Linked DNA regions of Homo sapiens: region 1 is linked to region 2. Evidence: fine-mapped expression QTL. A gene starts in region 2. The other region holds a variant in brackets. All regions are shown on one strand. Distances are between the middles of the regions. Region 1 holds the start of LOC102723663 (a long non-coding RNA gene). Region 2 holds the start of ATG7 (autophagy related 7).

Region 1 (9,260 bases), 49 kb before region 2:
CAGGCATAAGCTACCATGCCCAGCTAATTTTTTGTATTTTTAGTAGAGACAGGGTTTCACTATGTTGGCCAGGCTGGTCTTGAACTCCTGACCTCGTGATCCACCCACCTCAGCCTCTTAAAGTGCTGGGATTACAGGAGTGAGCGACCGCGCCTGGCCTAAATTTTCTTATAAATTCATATTGCCATGTCTAAATACCTCAGGGAGCAGTGACTCCAGAAAACCATACAAACCTAGCACATGAATTAATGGATTATTATAAGAATTCTGGAGATGGATGGTGGCGATGAGTTCATGGTTGCGTGGTTGTGAATGTAGTTAGTATCATTGAACTGTGCATGTAAAATGGTTAAAGTGGTAAGTGTTTTAGTGTAGGTATTTTGCCACAGTTAAAAATAAATAGGCTGGGCACGGTGGCTCATGCCTGTAATCCCAGCACTTTGGGAGGCCGAGGCGGGCGGAGCACGAGGTCAGGAGTTCAAAACCAGCCTGGCCAACATAGTGAAACCCCCGTCTCTACTAAAAATACAAAAATTAGCTGGGAATGGTGGTGTGTGCCTGCAGTCCTAGCTACTTGGGAGGCTGAAGCAGGAGAATCGCTTGGACCCGGGAGGTGGAGCTTGCAGTGAACTGAGTTTATGCCACTGCACTCCAGCTCGGGCAATAAGAGTTGAGACTTCATCTCAAAAAAAAAAAAAAAAAAAAGGAAAGAAAATTTAATTTAATGTGTAACAATTCAATCAATGCACTGGTATCTGCTGCAAGACACGTCCATTCAGTCTACCCTGAATTCCCAGGAAGATTTCTTCCTAAGATGACCTTAAATTGACAAATCCTTTAATGTTAGACCTTGTCAAAATGCTTTAAGGAGCTGTTTAGTTTCTTTCTTATTTATTTTAATTGTGGTAACTTAATGTGTTGTTTTTTTTTTTTTTTTTTTTACAATAAATTTTTCTGAAAAAGGAAGGAAGTATTGGCTACAAACAGAGTAGTCACGCAGACCAAGGTTAAAATCCAGATTCTGCCTTTTGTTAGCTCCGTGACTTTTGGCAAATTACTTAAGCTCTCTAAGACTCAATTAGTAATCTGGAAAAGTAATTGTAATAGTAATTACCTCCTAGCATTGTGGTGGGACTTTAATAAAACAATACCTATCAATCCCCTAACACCACGCCTGGCCTGGGGTAACTGCTATATATGTTAGTTGTTTCGTTCCAAAAAGAATTGGACCTGGGTCTAAGAAACCCCAAGTGCCACTGTCAGCTCCAACCCTGACTTGCTGTATAGTCTTGGTAAAGCCGCCTGTCTCTGAGGCCGGTTACCTCATCACTGTCCTGAGAATCCCTGTCCTCTGTGAGAACAGTACTGCTGAGGTGCAGTGTCCTGTTTGTTGGTATGCAAGGGGCTTAGGAATGAGGCTGCCGGTGCTTGGGTTTCCTACAACCCAGTGCAGAGCCTGCAGCCACTCCAGCAGGCAACTAGCAAGAGGCGGTGTGGAGCTGCAGGGCTGCCCATGCACACCGGCAGGTGAAAATGCACCTTAGACACACAGCTGAGACGGTAAATTGGTTTCCGTCATCCTGTGCAGGGAAGATCATGCTGGTTTTACCCTTCTTGTTGGGCTGCCTCTTGTAAACCTTGTTTGCCCTCCTTTATCGGGCTGCGCTGAACTTAAAGAACAGACAAGTTGAGGTTCATTATAGCAACCCCAGGGAAGGGTGGCCTACCTCTCAAAGATTCACTTTTTCCCCCTGCATTTCTCTGTTTTATATAAGTAAAATAATAATGTACACATTATTTTGCTGCATTTCATGATTTTATGATTGTTCTATGTCAATAACAAAAAAAGAAAACCAATCACAGAGACAGTCAGTTTTATTCAGAATCCTGCTTCCCCAGGGGCATAAAAGAGACGAATCCCCAATTCTTTAACTGAGATGAGAAGGAGAAATCAAGTTCAATGTTAAATAGACTCTCTGGAGTCACTACCCCCAAAGTATCTGGGCGTGGGAATATGAGTTTATAAGAAAATTTGGTTTAAAGTGTAACAACTCAATCAATGCTGTCTACCACAAGACACCTCCATTCAGTCTACCATGAATTCCCAGGAGGATTTCTTCTTAAGATGCCCTTAAGTTGACAAATCCTTTAATGTTAGACCTTGTCAAAGTGCTTTAAGGAGCTGTTTAGTTTCTCATTTATTTATTTATTTTTAATTGTGGTAAAATATCTGTAACACGGGGCCAGGTGCAGTGGCTCATGCCTATAATCCTAGCACTTTGGGAGGCCGAGGTGGGTGGATTGCCTGGGCTCAGGAGTTTAAGACCAGCCTGGGCAACACGGTGAAACCCTGTCTCTACTAAAATACAAAAAAAATTAGCCGGCCATGGCAGCATGCACCTGTAATCCCAGCTACTTGGGAGGCTGAGGCAGGAGAATCGCTTGAACCCAGGAGGCAGAGGTTGCAGTGAGCCGAGATCACGCCATTGCACTCCAGCCTGGGCAACGGAGCGAGACTCCATCTCAAAAAAAAAAAAATGTATATATATATATCCATAATACTTACGAGTTTAACCATTTTATATGCACGGTTCAGTGACACTAACTACATTCACAACCATGCAATCATGTGCCCATCACCACCCATCACCACCATCCACCTCCAGAACTCTTCACTTTGCAAAACTGAAATTCTGTACCCATTAAACACTAACTCCCCTTTCCTCCTTCCCGCAGCCCCCGGCAGCCACCATTCCACTTTTTATCTCTATGAATTTGATGGCTCTAGGGACTTTATATAAGTGGAATCATGCAGTATTTCTCTTTCTCTGATTGGCATATTTTACTTAGCAGAATGTCCTCAAGGTTCATCCAGGTGATACCACGTGCCAGATGCCCTTCCTTTTTTAAGGCTTAAAAATATTCCATGGTATGTGAGGACCACATTCTGTTTCCCCATTCATCTGCTGATGGACATGTGGGTTGCTTCCACCTTCTGGTTATTGTGAATAATGCTGCTATGAACATGAGTATATCAGTTTCTCTTTAAAAGTGTCCAGTAATCCTTTATTCCAGTGATGGTGTAGTTGTTCAGATTGTACAGGGGAGCATCTCGGCTAGATACCAGTAGTCACTTAATAGCTCTCTTGAACACCCACAGTCAGGAACTGGGTAAATAGCAAGGTGGCAGGAGGCACAGGACGGGGTGGGAGTGAGGGTGGGTGCAGCCACAGCTGGAAGTGTGCACAGCTGGAACTTCCCAGCATTGAGCAGGTCCTCATGGGAACAATTTATGAAAACTATGATTATTTTTCCATTTCCTAGACTCTGTGATTGTTTTCACAAGAAGCTAAGTGGTTTCTGTGTGATTATATATCCCAGGTGTTGTGTGGAATTTTAACTCAAATACCAAAATCTAGGGCGATTTGCCTATCACGCATCCATTTATTCCACTTCCTCCAGCAAGTTCACAGCACTATGTAAAATGCTTAGAACCAGTGGAGGTTTTTGTGAGTTCTGGAAAACAAGAGGAGGGAAAAATCAATGGAGAAAAGCAGGAGTGAAGCAGATAGCCACTGAGAAGAAGAAGATGGCAGGCTGACGGGAAAGTACAGCGGCCGAGTGTCTGCTGGCGAGCTGTGCGTCAGGGCCCACTTGCACAAATAGTAAGGCAGAACTAGTGGCCCCCTAGACCCAGGGGGCGTTTAGAGGTCCTGGGAAACATAAACTCTCCATCCTAAGACAACACTACACCCTCCCACTCCTAATCAAGGCCCTTACATTCCACCATTCAAGCGCATTAAATAATAGTTGTCCAAATGTGTGGTAAAGGATTTTCTCTTTTCAGAGCCACTCTTTTAAAATGCAGACGCTCCAGCCGGGCGCGGTGGCTCACGCCTGTAATCCTAGCACTTTGGGAGGCCAAGGCAGGCGGATCATGAGGTCAAGAGATCAAGACTATCCTGGCCAACATGGTGAAACCCCACCTCTACTAAAAATACAAAAATTAGCTGGGC[A/G]TGGTGGCGCGTGCCTGTAGTCCCAGCTACTCAGGAAGCTGCGGCAGGAGAATCGCTTGAATCCAGGAGGCAGAGGTTGCAGTGAGTCGAGATCGCACCATCACACTCCAGCCTGGCGACAAAGCGAGACTTCGTCTCAAAAAAAAAAAAAAAAAAAAAAAAAAAAGTCCAGGCACAGTGGCTCATGCCTGTAATCCCAGCACTTTGGGAGACTGAGGCAGGTGGACCACAAGGTTAGGAGATCGAGACCATCCTGGCTAACATGGTGAAACCCCATCTCTACTAAAAATACAAAAAAAAAAAATCAGCCGGGGGTGGTGGCGGGCGCCTGTAGTCCCAGCCACTCGAGAGGCTGAGGCAGGAGCATGGTGTGAACCCAGGAGGCGGAGCTTGCAGTGAGCAGAGATGGCGCCACTGCGCTCCAGCCTGGGCGACAGAGCGAGACTCCATCTCAAAAAAAAAAAATGTGGACGCTCCTTACAGAGCTCTCCGAATTTCAACACCCTTTAGAGTTCCTCCAGCTTGACTGTTCTCTAGCTGCTCTGAGGGGCCTCTGGGGAGTGTGGGGCAAAGAGGGGGAGTCAAGTAGACAGGGCTCTGGGTTCCCCCACTCCACTCCAGCTACAGCAGCAAGCTGCTTCTGTCTTATATAAATTGTTACATAAACCAGTAGTTGCGCTACCAAGAAAAGGGGGAAAGGGAAATGTTTGAAAAATCCCTAATCTTGAGCAACCCCCTTGTTTAACAGAGGAGGCCTGGAGAAGTTGAGAGAAGGGTTCAGCGTCACACAGCAAATTCATTCAACAAATATTTTCTACTGTGCCAAACACACAGTAAACAAAGATGAGCACACAAATCCTTGCCCTGAAGACTGGGCCCTTCTCTCCAGGATGACTCTTCCGCAGCCTTGAGGGGACACAGAGGGCACTGTCAGCAAGGAGGAGGATGGCCTTTCCCCATGACATGTTCCAGCCACATCATCCTGACACCCCAAATATGATTGAGGCCATCTCTCCTGTGCATGCAAAAGAGAACACACATTTGTTCTCTTTAGTGTATTGTGCCTCAACCATCTCATTTCACTCTTTCTGAAGCCGTGCAATGTGCATGCCTACCATGTGCCAAGCAGTTCTAGCATGTGAGGCTGAATAAGACGTGGCCTCTGCTCCCATGGATCTTCCAGCCAAACAGGGGAGAGAAAAGCTCTGCATAAATGATCACAGTACAGAGTCAGCTCTACACACTGATAGCTTATCAGCCTTGGAGTCTGGGTCAGGGAAAGAAGAGATACATCTAGCTAGGGGAGGAAGCATTAGAATAGGGCCTCACTTCTCTTTCCAAATTTCGGGTTAAGAAATTGGATGTTGGAGGGCCGGGCGCGGTGGCTCACGCCTGTAATCCCAGCACTTTGGGAGGCCGCGGCAGGCGGATCATGAGTTCAGGATATCGAGACCATCCTGGCTAACACGGTGAAACCCGGTCTCTACTAAAAAATACAAAAAAAATTAGCCGAGCATGGTGGTGGGCACCTGTAGTCCCAGCTACTCGGGAGGCTGAGGCAGGAGAATGGCGTGAACCCAGGAGGCGGAGCTTGCAGCGAGCCGAGTATGCGCCACTGCACTCCAGCCTGGGCGACTGAGCGAGACTCCATCTCAAAAAAAAAAAAAAAAAGAAATTGGATGTTGGAGTCAGGCAGCCCTTGCTTTCAAGCCCAGTGGGCCTCATAACTGTGAGGTTGGACCAGGGGCATAGGTTCCCAGAGCCTCATCTGAAAAATGGGGGTGATAATTACAGTTCCCACTTCCAAAGGTTGCTGTGGGGATTGAATGAGATAACACAGGTCCAATTCTTATCCTCGATAAATATGCCCCTTATTTAAGGACTTTAGGGATGAGGTGAAGATGAGACAGAAGCTCTTCAAAGGCTCTACCCAGGCAGGGAGAAGAGAGGGGAAAGTAGGCAACGTCAAAGTGGATGCTCCACTGCGGCTGCTAAGAGCCACTCACAGGAGGAGTGCTGGGAAGTGCCACAGGAAAGGGGGAGCAGGGCCAGGAGACCAAGGGACCCCTTCAAAGCCAAACTGAGGACTTGGGCCCCTGGAACTCATTTGTGAGTTCTAAAAATTTTCTTGTAGATTCCCCAGGATTTTCTACAAACAAGACCATGTTATCTTCAAATAGTTTCACTTCTTTCCTTCAAGTCTGGATGCCTTCATTTCCTTTTCTTGCCTAATCGCTTGGCTTCTTTTAACTCCTTTTATTTTTGACAATGTGAGAACCAGGCCTGGCCGGCTGGAGTCGGAGAGAGGGACAGACTGCTCTCTGGAAGGCTGGCCAGACACGGGAAGATATGTAGGCCTAGTCAGGCGACTGCCAGGGCAGATCTCTCAAACTCTGATCTGGCAGGCACTCCAGGTAGCCCCGAGGGATGATCAGGGAAGAGGAGACAGGTGAATGCCTCTTTGGAGCACTCAGTGACGGGAACATATTTCTGGAGCATTCAGTAACTTCATTAAGCACCTCCCCACTTCTTGGCTCTGAGGACACAGAGATGACTCAGACCCACATGTGACACCCACAGTCTAGTGAAAAAAGTCTGATCAGTAATTAAGGAATTACAACCTAGCTTTATTATTTATTTATTTACTTACTTACTTTTGAGACGGAGTCTCGCTCTGTCGCCCAGGCTGGAGTGCAGTGGCACGATCTCGGCTCACTTCAACCTCTGCCTCCCGGGTTCAGGCGACTCACATGCCTCAGTCTCCCAAGTGCTGGGATTACAGGCATGAGCCACCGCACCCGACCACAACCCAGCTTTATAAGGGTTGTAATTGAGGTCTGTGCAGAGTTCAGCGAAGCCCTGGAGAAGGAAGTGAATTAACCCAGCCCAGAGGGACGGATGAATGACTAAAAGGAAGTGACATCAGAACTGGGTTGTAAAGAACTAACTGAATGTCTTGCCAGGGTAAGAGGATGAGAACAGGCATTCCCGGCAGGAGAGCAGCATTTGTAAAGGTATGGGGTGTACACGAGCAGGGCCTATTTGGGGAGAGTGGAGAATCAGAGATGAGGCTGCACAGTAAGGTGAGACCAGGTGGAAAAAGCTCTGTGTGATGGGTCGAAGGTATTGACATATACTAGCCACTGCCCGGCACCCTCCCTCCGTTTCCGGAGTAGACCTGTTTGCTTATCTCGTGGGCATTTGCCAGGCTGATTAGAGTAATGAGTAAAGAAAAGAGGGCACTGGGAAAGCTAAGTTCATTTATATTAGAAATTACATGATACTCTTCCATAAATCAGAAAGATTGAAGAGTGGGTGAAAGAAGGGAAAAGGGAATTAAAGGGGAACCAAGGCAACCTGAAGTTTTTGAGAGAGAGAGCAGGAAGATTTGAGGATGAGCAGGTGATGCTGTAGCTGGCGCTATGTAGCGACAGATGGGAGAAGTTCTTTGTGATGGTTTTGCCTCTTTGAGAGTCTTCAGTAAAGGTTGAAGTTACTTTTCCATATCGTTTTATTTTCTGGATGTTGGACTTGAATTTCTTTTTAATGTGATCATGGGGCCAGGCGTGGTGACTTATGCCTGTAATCCCAGCACTTTGGGAGGCTGACGCGGGTGGATCACTTGAGGTCAGGAGTTGGAGACCAGCCTGGCCAACATGGTGAAACCCCGTCTCTACTAAAAATACAAAAAAATAGCCAGGTGTCATGGTGGGTGCCTGTAATCCCAGCTACTCAGGAGGCTGAGGCACGAGAATCACTTGAACCTGGGAGGCAGAGGTCGTAGTGAGCCGAGATGGCACCATTGCACTACAACCTGGGTGACAGAGCAAGACTCAGTCTAAAAAAAAAAAAAAAAAAGAAGATACCATGTGTAGACTTTATTTGGGTTGTTACCCTTGTATCACACATGTGGGGCCAGGGTGCTTCTGTATATCCTGACAACAGTGGCCAGCCATTAAAGAGTTTTGAGTAGGGGAACTGGATTTGTGGTTTTAGAAAGATCATTTGGCTTCTGTGTGAAAGAGGCCAAAACCAGGAGCAGAAAGACCAGTTAGGAAGCTGTGACAGCAGTTGAGAGACGATGTTGTCAAAGTCTGCAGCAGAACAGAACAGGGGTGACCCCACATGGACATCATCTCTGCTCTTCAGTCACCTGTAGTGCAGAGTTTTGAAGTAGGTCTGAGCATGGAACCGTAGTGGTTGGGAAGGAAATGCCATTTGCCTATGGGGTGATTAAGATCTTTTTTTTTTTTTTTCCTCAGGCGGAGTCTCGCTCTGTCCCCCAGGCTGGAGTGCCGTGACGTGATATCAGCTCACTGCAGCCTCCGCCTCCCTGGTTCAAGCAATTCTCCTGCCTCAGCCTCCCAAGTAACTGAGATTACAGGCGCCCGCCACCACGCCTGGCTAATTTTTGTATTTTTAGTGGAGACGAGGTTTCCCCATGTTGTCCAGGCTGGTCTCAAACTCCTGACCTAGGTGATCTGCCCACCTCAGCCTCCCAAAGTGCTGGGATTACAGACGTGAGCCACCACGCCCGGCCTTACCTTTTCATTATGTAAATACACACCCAGAAGGAGGCCTGTCTGAGCTGCACAGGACTCTGGTCTGCACCTGAGCATCTTCCTTTCACTTCTGGAGTGCTTGAAGAGATCTAGACAAGACCACTTTCTTTGTGGTTTCTTGACTTGCCCACACCCCCTAGGAACTTCCTCTCTCTGAGAGTGAATAGAGTCTGTCCTTAGATAGCACTTGCCTGAGGAAGCAGCCAGAAGTAAGATTTGCTATCAGTTACTAGGGAAATGATTGCTGTTGGAGCTGGCCAATTAATCAGCAGGACAGAAAGTTCTTGGATGAACTAGGACAGGCCCCAGCCATCCCTAAGGCATATCAAAAACGAGGGGAGAATTGGGAGTCTTATTCACATTTCCATCTCTAGTGGCTTGGCCTAGCATAATACCTGGTACCACATTATTGTTTAATTAATAGTTCCTGAATATATTAATGAATTAGCATAACATGAAACTCTGAATGTGGTCATGTTGGGTCAGAACTGTGGTGCGTTAAAGGCAGGATTCATCTACTTATTCATTCATCACTTACTGAACTCCTCCTACCATAATTCAGCTTTAGTTAGGAAAGTGATTCACAATATTGGTTGCATTGGAACCATCTGGAGAGTTTTAAAAATCCAGGCCAGGCACAGTGGCTCGTGCCTGTAATCCTAGTGCTTTAGGAGGCCAAGGC
Region 2 (9,260 bases):
AAAAAAAAAAAGAAAGAAACCCCATTTGTATTAAAAAAAAAATACAAAAATTAGCCAGGCATGGTGGTGTGTTCTTGTAATCCCAGCTTCTAGGGAGGCTGAGGCAGGAGAATTGCTCACCATATTCTAGGAAGGCTGAGGCAGGAGAATTGCTTGAAACCAGGAGGCAGAGGTTGCAGTGAGCAGAGATGCGCCATTGCATTCCAGCCTGGGCAACAGAGTGAGACTCCATCTCAAAAAAAAAAAAAAAGAAAAAAGAAAAAAAGGGAGTAAAAGAATGGCTACTCCATAGGCAGTGTGTGGTGGCATGGGCTGCTCAATTGATTATGCTAATAGTTACTTCTTGATTATATGCTAAACAAGGGGTGGATTATTCATGAGTTTTCTGGGAAAGGGGTGGGCAATTCCTGGGACTGAGGGTTCCTCCCCTTTTCAGACTGCATAAGGCAACTTTCTGACATTGCCTTGGCATCTGTAAAAGGTCATGGCAATGGTGGGAGTGTCTTTTAGCATGCTAATGCATTATAATTAGCGTATAATAAGCAATGAGGATGACCAGAGGTCACTCTCGTCACCATTTTGGTTTTGGTGGGTTTTGGCACGTTTCTTTAGCACAACCTTTATCAGCAAGGTCTTTGTGACCTCTGTCATACCCTGATCTCCAGTTTTATCCTGTGAGTAAGAATGCCCAACCTCCTGGGAATGCAGCCCAATAGGTCTCAGCCTTACTTTACTCAGCCCCTATTCAAGATGGAGTCATTCTGGTTCAAATGCCTCTGACAGTAAAGGTTAAGAAATCCTTCTTGGCCAGGTGCAGTGGCTCACGCCTGTAATCGCAGCGCTTTGGGAAGCCGAGGTGAGCAGATCACCTGAGGTCAGGAGTTTGAGATCAGGCGGGCTAACATGGTAAAACTCCGTTTCTACTAAAAATACAAAAAATTAGCCGGGTGTGGTGGCATGCACCTGTAATCCCAGCTACTTGGGAGGCTGAGGCAGAAGAATCGCTTGAACCCGGGCGGTGGAGGTTGCAGTGAGCCAAGATTGCGCCATTGCACTCCAGCTTGGGCAACAAGAGTGAAACTCCATCTCAAAAAAATAAATAAATAAAAAAAAAAGGCTGGGCGTGGTGGCTCACACCTGTAATCTCAGCACTTTGGGAGGCTGAGGCGGGTGGATCATGAGGTCAGGAGATCGAGTCCATCCTGGCTAACATGGTGAAACCCTGTCTCTACTAAAAATACAAAAAATTAGCCGGGCGAGGTGGTGGGCGCCTATAGTCCCAGCTACTTGGGAGGCTGAGGCAGGAGAATGTCATGGACCTGGGAGGCGGAGCTTGCAGTGAGCCAAGATTGTGCCACTGCACTCCAGCCTGGGTGACAGAGCGAGACTCCGTCTCAAAAAAAAAAAAAAAAAGGAAAAAGAAATCCTTGCTGGGCAAGGTGGCTCACACTTGTATTCCCAGCACTTTGTGAGGTGAAGGTGGGAGGATCACTTGAGTCCAGTAGTTCAAGACCAGCCCTGGCAACATAGCAAGACCCAGTCTCTACAAAAAATGAGAAAATTAGCCCGGCATGATGGCATGCACCTGTAGTCCCAGCTACTCAGGAGGCTGAGGTGGGAGGATCCCTGGAGCTCAGGAGGTTGAGTCTGCAGTGAGCTATGATCACTCCACTGTACTCTATCCTGGGTAACAGAGGGAGACCCCGTCTCAAAAAAAAAAAAAAAAAAAGATAAAGCAAAAAAGAGAAATCTTTCTTAACCTTTTTGTGCTTCAGAAAATGTTCACTACAAAGAAATACCCATTCTCATGTCACTTAAATGACTCCTGGTTGCCTCCCTTGTTTACTGTGGCAAGGTCAAACACAGTCCTTCTGAATTCCCATTCTTTGCCTCATAAATGATTACAGAGCTGCTTGTCTCCATTGACCAGTTGGAAAAAATGCTTATTAACCAAACTTGGGTTAAGCTTCTTTCCTTTCCCCAGGCTCCTTACTTTAACCTACTCTCAGCTTGAACTAGCATACTGTCTCATGTGTCCGTGTGAAGAGACTACCAAACAGGCTTTGTGTGAGCAACAAGGCTGTTTATTTCACCTGGGTGCAGGTGGGCTGAGTCCAAAAAGAGAGTCAGCAAAGGGTGGTGGGATTATCATTGGTTCTTATAGGTTTTGGGATAGGCGGTGGAGTTAAAAGCAATGTTTTGGGGGTAGGGGGTGGATCTCACAAAGTACATTCTCAAGGGTGGTGAGAATTACAAAGAAACTTCTTAAGGGTGGGGGAGACTATAAAAGAACCTTCTTAAGGGTGGGGGAGATTACAAAGTACATTGATCAGTTAGGGTGGGGCAGAAACAAATCACAATGGTGGAATGTCATCAGTTAAGGCTATTTTCACTTCTGCGGATCTTCAGTTGCTGCAAGCCATCTGGATGTATACGTGCAGGTCACTGGGGATATGATGGCTTAGCTTGGGCTCAGAGACTGACACACACAACCCCTACTGAGAATAGGTTGGCCTCAAGATAAAACATTCTCTAATCTACTATCTGATCAAGCCACCCCTTCATCCCACTTCCCATATTCGGTTGTTTCCAGCCTTGTTTACCTGCCTTTGGGGAGGGTGGGGGGTGGGGGAACCCTCTTTTTCCCTAACCATTGAAACATCTGCGGATGTTTTGGTCAGAGTGATCTCACTATTGCAATAGTCTCCCTCTGCTATTGCACGGTTCCTTCTCTCCCACCTCTCTCACTTCTTGCAGTAATCCTTTCTTTTTTTTTTTTTTTGAGACGGAGTCTCGCTCTGTCGCCCAGGCTGGAGTGCAGTGGTGGGATCTCGGCTCACTGCAAGCTCCGCCTCCCGGGTTCACGCCATTCTCCTGCCTCAGCCTCCCAAGTAGCTGGGACTACAGGCGCCCGCCACCACGCCCGGCTAATTTTTTTGTATTTTTAGTAGAGACGGGGTTTCACCGTTTTAGCCGGGATGGTCTCGATCTCCTGACCTCGTGATCCGCCCGCCTCGGCCTCCCAAAGTGCTGTGATTACAGGCGTGAGCCACCGCGCCGGGCCTGCAGTAATCCTTTCTAATAAGTATCCTTATTAGTCTGGATTTGTTTTCTTATTTGCCAGAATCAAACAAACTTCAGATTACGTTCCTGGCCCAAAAGCCCTTTAACTTTCAGCAAGCCACCTAACTTTTCTTAGATTCTGTTCTTTCATATATAACTTGGGGATATGTTTCAGGACTCTTGTGAGGATTAGAGATGTAAAACCCTGAAAACATGGTGGCTAGTTAATTAATAGCAGTCATCGCTCTTGTTGTTATGAGTCTAGAGTGGTATATCAGAGTTAATTTGTGAAAGGCCTTACAGGCCAGACAGAGAAACTTGTCATAATCACTGCTGTATCTTCAACACCTGTCCAGTGCTTTGCACGCGCAGAGTATCTAACCAAGTATTGAGAGGGAATAACTTTATCTCACTGACAGTGAGGAGCTGTGAGAATGATGGCTGGTTTAGAAAAGGCAGGTTGGTCACTGTCGACGTTCACTGGCCTTTTCCTACTAAAATTCTCATCTCCTGGCTCTCCACACCTGCCACCCTGATGGCCCCTGTGCTGCGTTTGATGCCGCCTCTCCTGGAGAATGACCATGGTGATCATTCCTGTCATCCTCTGAAATCAAAAGAGAGAACGTGGGCACTTTCTTAAAAGCCTGAAGGGAATGTAGACATTCCGACATCTGGTAAGGGAGACGCTCTCCATCGCTTCCCCCGGGGGCGTCACCGCCCCCTGATGCCCCGCCCTCCTCACGACTCAAGTTCCTCCCACTTAGCTCGGTGCTAGGGGCGCATTTCCCCGGCATGCCTCTGCTCCTTTGCGCACGCGCGCCGCTTCCCAGTGGCAAGCGCGGGCAGGACCGCGTTGCGTCATCGGGGCGCGCGCCTCAGAGAGAGCTGTGGTTGCCGGAAGTTGAGCGGCGGTAAGTGAGCCGCGGCGGGCGAGGGTGTAGTGGGGTCTTGCTGGGCCGGTTTTGGAGGCCTGGAGTCAAGGGGCGAGCTCGCCAGGGAGGGCGAGGGTCACAGCAAGTCTCAGGATCCTCCTCTGCCAGTTTCTGGGTGGTCCTTCCTCCTCCAGGGACTCACTGATTCCGGCTGGCGCCCTTCGTCTGTAGCCGCGTCCCCTCAGACTGGTTCAGTCCGGGGTCTTCTGACTTGGAAGCTCGTGCTGATTTCCTAAGTCAGCCCCTCCTGTCCTCTTGGTAGGCAGTGCTCAGAATCTTCAGTGTTGGAACACGGGAGATGGGACATTTGGATTCCCAGCCTGGCTGTGTCTGGATTTGCTGTCTCTGGCACGTTCCTTCCCCATCTAAGCTGCTTTTCCATCTGCAAAATGGGAATGATAATCCGCCATTTGTTTAAGTGAGGAGGTTAAATAAGTTTACTTTCTGAGAAAGAAGATTCTCGATTCCTTGGTTACAGGGTTAGAAACTAATGCACAATAAGAATCAATCCGGTAAGGTAAATATAGGTGTTAGAACATTTGTCAGAAATAGAGTCAAACTTCTAATTTTATAAGTACAGTACTAACGTACATGATGTTGGAGAAGTACAAGCCAAACCGTGTGTGTGTGCACGTGCGTGCAGTTTCCTGATTTTTAAACACTGGCGACTGATGCCATTTTTTAAAAATTGGCAAGTAATTCTGGCGTTTAAAAACATTGGCAACTCAGTTTTTACAAAACCCTGTTCAACTGTAACCAGTCATATCTGTGGCTGTCAGTTTGGGACCTCTGGATCCCAGACTCCCTTTTTCATTGACTACTTAGATTTTTTTCTCTGACACCTCTGCCCACTGGCCAGATTTCTTCAGTGACAGAAAGCTTTCTACTTCTGGTTGCTCCTGTTTGGTCCTCCCCCAGTTCTGACTCTTAGGTTGAGCTGAAAGCAGCTACTCGGTAATCTTAGCTCACTGTTCCTCCTTCAGGCTCTTGGAATCACCCCTGCATTTAATTGCCCTATACATCATTGAAAGCTGCTAGTTTGTCTTCCTCTTCTCACCTTTTCTTCTCTAGGCTAAGCATATTTAATGTATTTGCTCATAGTAAACTTAACAGTGACAGCAAATTTTGTCATGTTTTGTTATATCCCCAGCATATAGAGCAATGCCTAGCATATTATATATGCTCAATAAATATTTGTTGGATGAATGAATAAAACAAATATTTGCCTGTTATGTGCCTGGCATTATTGTGGGCACTGGTGATCTATCAGTAAAATAAGAAGAAAAAGAACCCTGTTTCATGGCACCTTCTAATAATAGTGGTGGTGGTGGCGGTGGCGGCATTGTCAGTAAGGGTTGGTAGGTGTTTCCGATTCTGAAACGTACAGGGTCATGGGATGGACAGTAATTGGGGGGAAGCATAAAAGCTAGCTAGTCAGGGATGGCTTCCCTGAGGAAGTGACCTAACACTTGAATAAAGAAAAGTCCAGTCTTGGAATGGCTCATGTTGCTAAACTGCTTTCCCATCCCCCAACGCTGCTCCAGTCTTGTTAAGCTGCTTGCAGGTGTGTGTCACCTATAGCCCTTTGCTTCTGCTGCTTCGAACATCTCCCCTTCCTCTTCCATTTATCTTGGCCAACTCCTTCCTGCCCTCATGTGACATGATTTTGAAATCCTTTAAGAGCTGAGTACTGGACTTTCCATTACTCAACCACAGGTTCCGTTTTTCGTTCCCAGCCAGCATCTCATTATAGAGAATAAACATTTATTGAGCTTCAGCTGTGTGTCTGGCACTGCGCTGCAAGCTGGGAATACAAAAATGAGTAAGATACACATCCCTGTCCTCAAAGAGTTTACTTTTTTTTTAAGCCAAGGAGATAGCAACGGTATGGCATGAAGCTATTGCGGAGGTTTGGTAGAGGAGGACTTAGGGTACGCATAAGTCAGGCTGACTCATCAGAGAAGGTTTCAGTGAGGAGGTGCTGCTTTAGCCAAGACCTGAAGGACGAACGAGATCTGACAGGTGAAGAGTGGTTCGAAGTGAGATGAGCAAAGGGCTAGAGGTGAGAATGCATGGCCTGCTTGTGGTTCACTGGAGTGCCAGTGTGGAGGTGTAGGATGAGAGGTGACTGGAAAGGTAAGCACTAGCCACATCGTGAAGGGCCCTGTGGACAATAGCATGTTACCCGCACATAGACTTTGGGATCCAAGATAGCTGCGTACCAATATTCCCATTGCCACTGAACTAGTTTTGTGACCCTGGGCAAGTCACTTCTTTCTAAGCTTCAGTTTCCTCATCTCTAAGAAGGGGAAATAAAAACTGTACGAGGTGATATGTTACTCACTTGACACTGGTAGATGATAAATACTCAATAAACAGTAGTCATTAATATTGCCAGGCCCAGAAGTTTGGACTCTAAAATGTGGGGGCGGGGGTGGAGAGCAGGACACTGAAGATTTTAAAACAGATGCGACATCCTCTCATCTGTTTTAAATTACCCAGGCAGCAATGTGGTGATTACACTGGACAGAAAAAGACAAGCAGGGGACCAGTTGGGTATAGTTGCAGTGATCCAGGTGACAGGATGAAGATCTGGATGAAGGCAGTGACAGTGGAGATGGAGAGGAGTGGGAGGAGTTGAGAGATTAAGGAGGTGGAATTTGCTGGACTTGGTAACTGATAGGATGAAACAGAAGAAGGGGACAAGAATCAGGATCCTGATGACGGGAGGGCAGAAATGAATTTGCTGTGTGGAATTGAGCAGTAACAAAATTCTTTGACTAGTGTCTCTAATAGATTAACCCTGACCTCTGATTTTATTTGGAATTCAGTTTGCCTCTGTCGTCCACTTCTACCCATGGAAATGACGTTCGCTAATGTCTTCCTCTCCTCTTTTTTTTTTTTTCTTTTTTTTTGAGATGGAGTCTCACTCTGTCGCCCAGGCTGGAGTGCAGTGGCACGATCTCGGCTCACTGCAAGCTCTGCCTCCTGGGTTCACTCCATACTCCTGCCTCAGCCTCCCCAGGAACTGGGACTACAGGTGCCCACCACCATGCCCGGCTAATTTTTTTTTTTTTTTTTTTTTTTTAGTAGAGATGGGGTTTCACTGTGCTAGCCAGGATGGTCTCCATCTCCTGACCTCGTGATCCGCCTGCCTCAGCCTCTCAAAGTGCTGAGATTACAGGCGTGAGCCACCGCTTCCTCTCCCCTTTCTATCTCCTGATCTCCCCACCCTTCTCCAGTGCGATTAAGGCCTGATTGTATAATCAAGGGACAATAAATACTGGAGGTGCTGCTCTGTTAATTGGTAGTCAGTAGGTATTACCATGATCTTGGCAGACTGAGGAATAGCCTATTCACTCCATCTCAGACCGGCTTCAGAATGATCACTTTTGGGATTTCCTCACACCTTCATCCCAGTTACCATCCTTGAACTTGCTCTGGTTTGTCAGCCTCTCTTTGAGTGTGTGGTACAGAAAGGAAATCCTCTTTCCTTGAGGACTCTAACCATGCAGAGCAAGACTGCACTTTTCTTGTGGTAACCTAAAGCCCTGCCAGCTCCATTATAGACACATTGTGCTTTTGACACTATTACACTAGTGTGCCACCAAATAGGCCCTCAGCGTGGCTCAGCCCTCCCCATATCCTCAGGCAGCTCTCTTGTCCATTTCCCTTTATGTCTTCCTCATATTCATTCCTCTCCTCAACCTCCTACCTTGACTTTTGCTCCACTAAGTTGCAGCCATTAATTAAGGCATCGCAGCTTCCTCTTCTATCCTTTACCAACTGATCTTTAGCTGACCCTATCCTTTTGCCTTTTATTCTAATTCTGTGAAAGAAATGGTGTTTTAAGACTAAGTCCTCTATTTGTGCTTGAGATCCCATCGCCTCCTTTGCCTCAAGGACTGGGTTCCATCATTTGTTCATTTTCTTTTCTGTTTCATCAACCCTTCTCATTTAAATATTCTCTGTTTACTCTCATTTTGGAAAAAACAAAAACCCTCCAATTAACCTATGCTGCACCCTGTCACACCTCTTTTACCCAGCCACCTTTCTTGGAAGAGTTATCTAGAGTTGCTTCCTGTACTTCCCTAAGTCATTGCTAAAATCCTGCTCTCGTCCCACCACTCCCCAAAGTCATCAGACCTCGACATTGCCAGAATACCTGACCACTTTTCCTTCTTATCTTTCTTGGCACATCTGACATTGCTGACCTTGCCCCTCACTTAGGAAAACCCAGTCCTACTTTGTATTATCTCTCTGGCCATTTGTCCCTCAATTTCCATTGTGGGCTCCTTTCTTCCCCTTTGTCCCTCACATGCCAATTTTTGCCAAGACTCTGCCCTCTACTATATTCTTTTCAACCGCAGCTTCAAACTTGTTTATATGCTCATGACCCCTGTTCTGTATCATAGCCCGAATCTCTCCTGAGTGCTACCCTCAAACTCAAACAAGTCTAAAACTAAGCTCCTCATCTTCCCTTTGAACCTGCCGTTCTTTCTCCATTCTTGAATCTTGCCAATTCCTCTCCTTTCATTTAGTCATCCAAAACAGAACCCTGAGAGTCATCTCAGACTCTTCCTCTGGTACTAGCCCTCCTTTCCATCTTCCAAGTCCAGGTAGTCATCAGAGTTCTATAGATTCGACTTTGTTGCTATCTCCTGACTCACATCTCCTCCATTTCCTCCCTTGCTCCCTCATTTCAGGCTCCCCTCCCTTTTTGCCTGTCTTTCTGCACAGCCTCCCAGCTGGTTGCCCTGCCTCAGCAGTCTGGTCCTCACTGCTGTGGATTGCCTTTACTAAAATAGAGATCTATGCAGAAATACAGTTGCATAGCTTTTCACATAAGGCTCTTCATGATATGGCCTTTGCCTGCTTTTATGGCATGGTCCATCTACTCTGCCCCATGTGCCTCTCCTTGCTGCCATACAGAACTCTATCAGGGGAACCTGCCCCCAATATTTCAAGGTATGTTCTTTCTATTTTCCATAAGTGTCAGCTGGCTGAGAAATAAAGAGAAAGAGTACAAAGAGAGGAATTTTACAGCTGGGCCTCTGGGGGTGACATCACATATTGGTAGGACTGTGATGCCGACCCGAGCTGCAAAACCAGCAGGTTTTTATTAAGGACTTCAAAAGGGGAGGGGGTGTGCGAACAGGGAGTGGGTCACAAAGATCACATGCTTCTGAGGAAACAGGACAAGGACAAAATCAGAAACTCCTGATAAGGGTCTATGTTCAGCAGTGTATGTATTGTCTTGATAAA

The links.
Region 1: its variant is fine-mapped to the expression of ATG7 in skeletal muscle (GTEx, PIP above 0.99).

The regions. Positions count from the first base shown.
Region 1 is chr3:11,219,030-11,228,289 of GRCh38, forward strand. All of the region lies in intron 1 of HRH1 (histamine receptor H1), which reads left to right. LOC102723663 (a long non-coding RNA gene) reads right to left here and starts at 6,889. Exons shown (of 4, transcript XR_001740596.2): 1 at 6,671-6,889. RefSeq lists an enhancer at 6,774-7,068. The variant A/G (reference allele first, on the strand shown) is at 4,017.
Region 2 is chr3:11,268,457-11,277,716 of GRCh38, forward strand. It overlaps ATG7 (autophagy related 7), which reads left to right and starts at 3,941. Exons shown (of 21, transcript NM_001349232.2): 1 at 3,941-3,974. RefSeq lists enhancers at 3,539-3,588, 3,545-4,136, 3,859-3,988, 4,137-4,726.